Regions from separate parts of the Homo sapiens genome. Here region 1 is linked to region 2. The links come from fine-mapping of genetic effects on gene expression. A gene starts in region 2. The other region holds a variant in brackets. All regions are shown on one strand. Distances are between the middles of the regions. Region 1 overlaps NREP (neuronal regeneration related protein). Region 2 holds the start of NREP (neuronal regeneration related protein).

The links. PIP is the estimated chance that this variant, and not a neighbour inherited with it, causes the effect.
Region 1: its variant is the best candidate, but not a certain one, in a credible set for the expression of NREP in whole blood (INTERVAL, PIP 0.88).

What each region holds. Positions count from the first base shown.
Region 1 is chr5:111,728,601-111,732,996 of GRCh38, forward strand. It overlaps NREP (neuronal regeneration related protein), which reads right to left. Exons shown (of 4, transcript NM_004772.4): 4 at 703-2,446. The coding sequence ends at 2,321. It overlaps STARD4-AS1 (STARD4 antisense RNA 1), which reads left to right. Exons shown (of 7, transcript NR_040093.1): 4 at 1-160; 5 at 891-1,080; 6 at 3,181-4,396. Among named protein-coding and RNA genes, the nearest start is that of NREP, 26 kb to the right of the region's middle. The variant T/TGG (reference allele first, on the strand shown) is at 1,939.
Region 2 is chr5:111,755,505-111,759,900 of GRCh38, forward strand. NREP (neuronal regeneration related protein) reads right to left here and starts at 1,690. Exons shown (of 4, transcript NM_004772.4): 1 at 1,632-1,690; 2 at 266-326. The coding sequence starts at 268. RefSeq lists an enhancer at 890-1,447 and silencers at 2,041-2,440, 2,461-2,820.

The sequences.
Region 1 (4,396 bases), 27 kb before region 2:
CCTGTGTACAAGCCAAGTTAAAATTTCACTCCCGTAATGGATGAGGAGAAACCAGAAGACATTTCTCATGCACAGGGAGTGCATGAATCCCCTGAATTGCCAGGTTTCAGGGTCACATGAGACCTCTAGAAGGCTCTGCTCATCATCACCTTATCATCTGGTAGGTTCCAGGTATCTGGGTACACATGAATTAAGCCTTAATGACTTTAAATTCTGTCTCAAATTTTTATCCTCTTACAAAAGTTTAAGCTTTTTGTCTGAGGAAAAGTGCACATATTCCATGAAGAAGGGAGGTCAGATCTCTTTTGGCAGGGAAAAAGAAAGAATACCACAGAGTGGGTCTTAAAGAATACCACAGAGTGGGTCTTAATGGCAAGGAGTGAGAAAGAGTAAGTTTTGAAGCGTATGGGAATGCCTTGGAAGGGAGAAAAAGTGTAGAAATAAAAGGATCTTGGTCTAATTCTGCTTTGTGTCCAGAGGCAGCTCTGCAAATACCATCTTAATGAGCCACTGCCTAGCCCCTAATCTCATAAAATCCTCAAAAGGGAAAACGCATGAAAGGCAGAGCTGATTCTCTCTCTTTTGATATTTGCCCTTGGGTTTGCTGGCCTGACTTCTGGGGCTCTGGAAACACATGAATTAGCAAGAACCAGAGAAGACATTCAAAACTAGGCCTCTTCAATGATGAGCCAAATCAGACAGTTACCTTACAGCTTGCGTATTTATTGAACAAATACTACTAAAATAGCTAAAATACATTGGGTACTTGTCATGAGTGCATCAGTAAAGATCACACTGTTACAAAAGCCTGCATTTTCAGCAGTACACAACTGCAACTCTACATAAATGCCACAGATGCAGAATACTGTTTTCTTGCTCTATTTACACAGCTGATATACCTATTCTAACGAAGGAGGGAGAGGAGTAATGCACAAGAAACTCAGGCCAATGGGGGAGCAAGAAGAAAACGAAGAAGTGCAGTGCATGCGTCATCGGTGTTTAACAGTCAGAAGCGAAACAGTTCAGAACAAGGCCTGCCCTGTCAAAAGAAGAGCTAAAGACAGTTATATAAAAATTAAGGTGGGCTTTCAGACTGGCTAACACAACAACATTCCATGAGTAGATGGTAATTTATTTTTGTTTATCCATTTCGTTGGGAGCAAGGACAAAAATGTAAATCTACACCTTGCTTATCAAAATTGCCGAAAAAAGAATGCTCTGCCTTTTAAAAAAGTATCATGATTTTGTAGACCTTGTTTTCCAATTTAATATTTGGAAAAGGTGTCATTTTCATATTCCCACTCAGATGCCAGTGTTTTGGGTTTTTTTCCAGGGGGAGTTTATTTAAAACGGTTTTGCTCTTTTTTTCGACAAATATCCTTTCAAACAGAAAGAACCCAAAGAGACACCTCAAAATGCCTGTAAAATTATTGCTTTTCTTTCTCTAAGTCAGGCAGGCGAGGCTACGGAAAGGAAGAGATTTGGTAAGTAAATTACAGTTTTGTGATTGCTCCCGCTACCGTGACTGCATGTCCGTGAGCGCCAGCCAACGAGACAATGGTCTCTCACACTCTGGTAGCATTCGCTCAACCTACAACACTGAGGAAGAAAGCCACACTGAAGACACAAGGAAAACAAGTCAATCCAGTCTAGAGAACAACATTCAGGGAAACAGAGTACCAACACCTTCTTAGAACATGGAAATAAAAAATAACTCCATCAGAGCTACCTCGCCAAGGAGCATGTTGAAAGTCCAAAATAGCACCATTCATCAGTGTCTCAGGTCCTGTGGCAGCATCTCGGTCACTTACCACAAGGAAACAATGAGTTTCAAACTACTTCTATACATCAAAAGAGTACATGGATAAAATATAGAGATATACAGACAATTGATGAACATAAACTACTAGGTTTGTTACATCTAAATGAAAAAAAAGG[T/TGG]GGGGGGGGGACTCTCAGCCTCTGCAAGAAGCAGTCGGGAGCTGTGTGAGTGAAAAGGCAGGAGTGGACCGGTTGTGTGAGCGCGGTGGGAGTTTGAGTTGTGGAAGACATTGTTGTAGCGAACCAGGCCTGAAGGCCCACCTGTAAGGGTTGTAAACGTGGATTCACAGTGTGAAATTCTGAGCGTTTTCACTTGAGTCAGAATGATTAAAAACTGGTTTGATGACACCTATTTGTCCACTGTAAATTCTCTAAAGCAAGGCTCAGAGTCCCATAGTTTCTTCTTATACTTGATGATTTACACAGAAAAAAATCCCATATATGATACCATGACCTCATCAATACCCATACACCATATGTAATACAAATGGAGGTGTTACGATTAAAAAAAGTGGAGGTAACTGATTCTTGGGGAGCGGAGTTCACTGCTGCCCAGTGGAGTCAGGGAGGCAGCGTTTGTCTCATCGTTCTTCTTGCGGTTCACTTCCTTTGGGACAGGAAGTCTTCCCTGCAAAGCAGGCAGACCCACACACAGACAGACACACATAAAAGACAAAATTAGTCATGCTTCTGAAACCATTTTTTAAAATTTTGCTTTTCCTGCCCAGCCCACATTATACCCTTGAACTCTTGCTGTTTTGCAAAACAGAGTTTACATATTAAACACAGTTCACCTGAATGTAAATATTAGGTCTGTGAGGAAATGAAGTAATTAAACACTGGCCACCTTTGCTTCAGTAGAATGAAGTGCTTCTGTTACGGTGGTGCCAGCCATGTGTGAGGCAGCATTCCCCAGTGTCAGGTTTCTTGGGACAGTTTCTAGTATCAGATAGGGCCCAACCTTAGACTGGGTGATTGATAGATACTCACAGGAGTGTCAGTTGATAATTATAAAAAAAAAAAAAAAGAGTCCAGTGGGTGTGATGAAGACGGGTTAACAATCTATTTTCTAATATGTAATAAAAATATTTAAAAACGTATCTCAACTTGCATCAATCTTATCTATGTATGGCTTATTCTATGTGCAATCGGCGCATGACAGAAGTGGCTACCAAAGATGGGAAGTGTCTGTCTGGGAGAGAAATGATGTGAGGGTGCCCAGACAGCGGTCATAGGAAAGTGGGGGCTAGTGGGGAAACCAAGGCCAGAAGAGAGTGAGATTCAGCTCATCTAGACTGACTGGGGCTATTCTAAGGCTCTCCTCACAATCCTGATGAGAAAGGTTTTTGTGTTTCTGACTAGAATAACTCAATCTCAGTGTGACTACTGATCCGCCGCCACGTGGCTTCCCGGACACACTGCTGCAGCGCCAACAGTGGAGAGGAGCTCTCCATCACAACCAGACAGCAGAAGCACAGCACAGTGAAGCACACCTGCCCACATGATGCACAATACAGGTATTCATTTACAACAGATAGATTTTATGCCCTGTACAGGTATGAACACAGTGAAGATTTGACGATGGTCTCTCTTTCAGCTGAACTCTGGAGTTTTAATTACTGACATTTTCTTGGAAGAAATTATCCTTTGTGGTTTTAAAACATGTGGGCTTTTTTTTTTGTTGCTCAAGTCACATGTTCTAACAAGACAGTTTTAATAAGCCAGTTTGACTAGATGTAAAGTACTTGGATTAAAGTGATAATCTTACTTTGTGGCCTATAAATTAACACATCTGAATTTCTTTTTAAGAATTCAGAAACCAGTAACTTCCAAACAACTTGAAATTGAATAAATATTTTCAGCAACCCAGGGGTGAACTAAATGCAACAGATTATTCAACTTTAAAAAGTCTTACTTACTGTACAGATTTTCCATATTAAACATCTGGTATGCCTCAATTTTTTACTTAAAAGTCTCGGACTTTGAGAGCATACAGCATTTTTTGCACATATATAACCATGATGTACTTTAATATTCCAATCTTAGGTTGTGATTTTAGAGGTTGTTTTGGTATCATTAAATACCAATGGGACCAAACCAGAAAATTAAATAAAAATATAATTCACCACTCACACACCCTTAAGGGTCTAGATTCAATTTCCAAAAGCATAATATTGGGTAGTTACTTGCAGTTGTGAAAATAATTTCAATCTTGGAATCTTGGTACACAGTCCCAAAATTTAAAAAAAAAAAAAAAAAAAGGAAATCCACTGTAATCCCAGTGTCTTTAAAATAATGCTGCCAGCCCGACCCCACCTCACCCCACAGTCAACCAGTTACCATGGTTCAGGATAGGACAAACTTAGGTTTTGGACAAATGAAGAGTTCAATGGCTGTTAATTGTCACAGGCAAGAAAAGAAGGAAAACCAAAAGTTGATAAATGTTAACTCAACAATTATAGTCTTTACACAGCTTGCCTTAAAACTGCTCCAGTTCAGACTTACTCTGTTCAAAAGTGAATATACAGAACGTTAGTGTATCTCTCTATTTAAATCTCAGTCTCAGTACTAATCTTCT
Region 2 (4,396 bases):
TCAAATTAAATAAATCCTCACTTCTGAAAGAGGAATTTTAGTTTTCTATTCAAAATAATTGCAAGTCAAAGAACTAATTTGCCACATCCAATTCACATAAATTGCTGTACTGCAACGCTCCCAGGAACTGGAGATAGAACCTTTTAAAGGTCAGATGGGGTGTAGAACAATGAAGGGTTGAGGCGGATGAAGATGGGTGGTTGATATTTATATGTAACAGACTGGTAAGAAGTACTGAGAATCTCCTCTGATGACCAAGTCTTACCATTTTGAGAATCTTAGTCTTGGGCTTCTATTCTCCCTCTCTTCAGTCCAGGGAGACCAACCTGCAAAATATGTTTAAATACAGTAGACACATCGCCTCACCACAGGTCAGCAAACGAAAAATGCCTCTTTAGAGGTTACAGACGAATAACCATTTTCTGTGGTTAAGATAAGTTACATGCAAATTATTGTTAACTACTGGGATTTCTGAAAGAGCTTTCCAAGTGGCCTATAGGCTTAACTAAGGGACAAAGGAATCCCTGGTACTTGGCTTTGCAGAGTCCTGGGCTATTCTTAGTGTTTGGTTCATCTTTAAATTGCATGAGTTCAAAAGGTTTAGCAACTTAAAAGTAGAACCAAGTGATAAAAATAGATTGTTTTCTGGCTGCTCTTTGTTCCCAGACATACTACTGGCAGTATATTTGCAATCAAGACGACAGAATAGGAATCAGCCTTCCACCGTGTAGTGTAATGCCTCAGAGTGGATATTTTTGGAAATGGCACTGCATTACATAACCTTCCGTGTTTAAAAAAAAAAAAAAAACCCTACACGGCGGGGGGGGTGGGGGGAGTCAGGAATATACACCATTCTGTCCTTCTCCCTAAACCAAATAAACATTAATGTACATACTGCTGCAGTGATTTACCCTCAACCTTTATATTATCAGAAGACCGCTCTTTTGTTAACACAGTTATGACAAAAATTAAGATGAATGGAGAAACTAAAAGTTCTCAAAAAGGGTATCATTCGCTCTTAGAGTTTTCCTATAATGTTATTATAGATACACATAAATGCACATCAGATTATTATAATCACCAAGAAAAAAACAGTCATTTATTTTTAAGGCCCTCCCCGCCAAAGTTCAACTGCTTTATAAGAAAATGCAGAAAAAAGTGCTGCAAGATCGAATGCCTAAGAAGACCCTCGGAAGCAGCAGCATTGAAAGAGTAATCAAGTGTAAGGGCGGAGGGACACAAATTCATTTTATAAAAAGGGAGGAAAAGCTTGCATGCACCAAAGTGCATTTAATGCAAAGAAACACAACAGTTTCTAACAAGGCTTTAGGAGCAAGAAGAACAAAATTAACCACACCAACAAGCACAAAACCCCACCCCTTCCCAAAAGAATTCATTTCTCCCTCCGAACTTGTGCATTTTAGAAAAAACCCAAGTTAAATTCCAGCCTGAATGCAGCACAACCAAAATGCCAGAATTTCTCCAAGGTACACGCTTCAGCTCTTTAAAATTTAGAGGGAAGAAGCATGAACTCTGCAGGGTTGAAGGGTCCAGCTAAGAGCAACGGCAAGGAATCGACACAAAAGAGAAACCAGCGCTCCCAGCCGGGGATAGGAATGGCATATACTTACAGACAAAAGCCCCGCTCCCTGTTCACTCTCTCTCCTCTCTACACCTGAAACACAAATGTGGTTGAAAAAGGGCAACATGCTAGAAAGACAGATTGGGGGGGGAGGGGGGATTGGGGGAGGGAGGGGGAGGGGAAAGGGGTGGAGGAAGAGGAGGGAGGAGGGGGAAGGGAAACAAAACCCAAACCGGCTTCACTTCCAAGAAGTGCAGCCTTGGAAAAAGGAGGAGGAGATCATCTCCCTGCCTCGCGCTCTCTCTCCAAGAGTGTGTGTGTCTCTCTCTTTCTCTAAGAGTCTCTCTCTCTCCCTTTCCCTCTCTCTCCCGCTAGGGTGCTAGTGAACAATGAGCTAATTCTGATGGAGCTGGCGCGGAGCCAGCGCCCCAGCCTTGCTGCCACTGTGCAGCCGCCTAGGAGCCAGACTGCTTACTCGGCAGGAATCGGCGGCTCTGGGCCCCGTCGGCGAGCGGCCAACAGGCGCGCGCGCCCCGACACCCCGCACCCGCGCCCCGGGCGCCCCGCTCGCCGCGCCGTCCCCACTGCACCGCGCGGCGCCCCGGGGAGACAAAGCGGACCCGCAGCTCTGCGCCCCGGCCCCGCCCCGGGAGCACGGCGCGCGCAAATCCCCGGCCTTCCTCCCCGCCCCCGGCCAGCCTCTCCGCCTCGACGTGCGGTTGCTTTTCAGACAAATAAGGAGGTGGAGGAGGCGGTTTGGGGGCGCGCCAAGCGTGAAGGCGGCCAGGGTGCTGCACAGCCCGGCGGCCCGCCAGGGCCGTGGGGAGAGGCGGCGCGGCCCGTACTGTAATAATAAACCTGCAGCAGAGGGCATCTGAGGAAAAGAGGACGGCGACGGGCGGCAGCCGCCTTCCTTTTATGTGCCTGTCCTGAGCGAAGCAGAAAATGGTGCCTGCGGCGGCGCGGAGCCGCGCTCAGACACACAAAGAGTCCGCGAAGGATGCATTTGCACACGGCCTCGGGTCGGACCCTGCCCCTCAGCTGGGTACGCGCGCCCCACTCCCTTCCGCGGGGAAGCCCGGGGCGGGGAGCGCCCCTGAAGGCCGGGCCCAGAGGTCCTGTGGCTGCGCGTGCACACACACACGTGCACACAGTCACACGCGCACAACCAGCCAGAGCTGCGGCCTGGCGTGATCGGCCCAAGACATACTCCCCTGGTGCTTCCTTCTCCTTCCCTATACGCTCCCCCACTGCCTGCCCGTCTGAAATTGTACTTTTTAAAATCGAGGATTGCTTTAAAAAATAAAGTGCTTTGCCATTTCTGATTTTTGTAAACTCGTCGTTCTTATTTAAAATCTATCTTTTCATAGTAATGTAATAGCTCAAAATTTTGCAACAAACTCAAATAAACTGGTTCTGTTGCCAATAAAGCAGGATATCATTTTATGGTAACTCTCAGATGTCACAGGAGAAGATTATTTCCTAATTAAATTGCCTTTCCAAGAAAAAAAGATATAAAGGATCATAGTGTCTTCTAAATTTGCCATCCACTTTTTCCCCTAATCACTGAAAGCAATGTTTTCCATTGTAACAAAGAAAATAAGGCAAATTTACAAAACTCAATTTTTAAACGTGTTTACAGAATGTCTGATGTTTTAGATTTAACATACTGGGTACAGCAATAGCAAACCTTAAAAAGCAATACTTTACACTCACAATTCTAAAAGAATGCACTGAGTTCTCTGTATGCTTGTTGCTGGGACTATAGGTCACCTTTAAAACTACAAAGCCATTGCCACAACAAATGCCTGTTAGACTGCACTGGGTATGATGTTTAAGGAGCCCACTGAAAGCTTCTCTGAATTAATCTAAAACATCACAGTAATTTTCCTGCAAAAATAAGATGATTTGGCAGCCATAGCTAGGAACAAAGGGAAGAAATATAAAACTCAACAAATTCCCTTGACCCTTTCAGGCCAGTTTACCAGCCAGGGAAGTACTGGAAGGAAGGTGTAAGGCATAGGCTGGGTGGTGGGAGAGGGGAGACGCCTGGGGGCTGATCTGCAAGTCTGGAACCCCAACACGCTGCTCAAGGGCACCTCAACATTGAGATCTTTGGCATTCACCTCAGGGTCAGGCTGGGAAAGGACCCCAAGGGCGCACCATCAAATCAGACTACCAAAAATCTATCCCAGTGATATTTGTTCAAAAGCTGCTTCTACAAGGAAACATACATATAAACACATACATACACAGGGACTTTAACGTTTATGTAAAACTTCCCTAAGATGTTCTTTCACAGAGAAGTGTTAATTTTTCTTTCTTTCTTTCTTTCTTTTTTTTTTTTTAAGAAATGGAGACTTACCATGTTACCATGTTGCCCGGTCTCAAACTCCTGGATTCAGGCAATCCTCACTACGGCCTCCCAAAGTGCTGGGATTACAGGCACAAGCCACCTCTCTTGGCCAATTTTTCTTCATTGTAATGATAGACATTCAGGTGACAGATTTTTAAGTATTAAGAACACTGGGTCAGATTCATAGCTTATTTATCTGTTGTGTTCCAGAAAACGGTTATCATCCAACTATCCAAGAAACATTCTTGAGTCTCCTCTAGGTGAAGGGGGCTGTGCTAATCACTTAAGGATATATGAGAAACTCATGCCATGTCACCTCACTCAAACTGTAGCTATAGCTGTCTCACAGTCCTCCTAGCTGCCATGTTCTGCCCTCTTCCATCTATCCTGTAGGTGTTACAGTAGACCCACTCTTCTAAAATTTCTTTTTAATCATGGTATCCCCTGCTCCATTACGG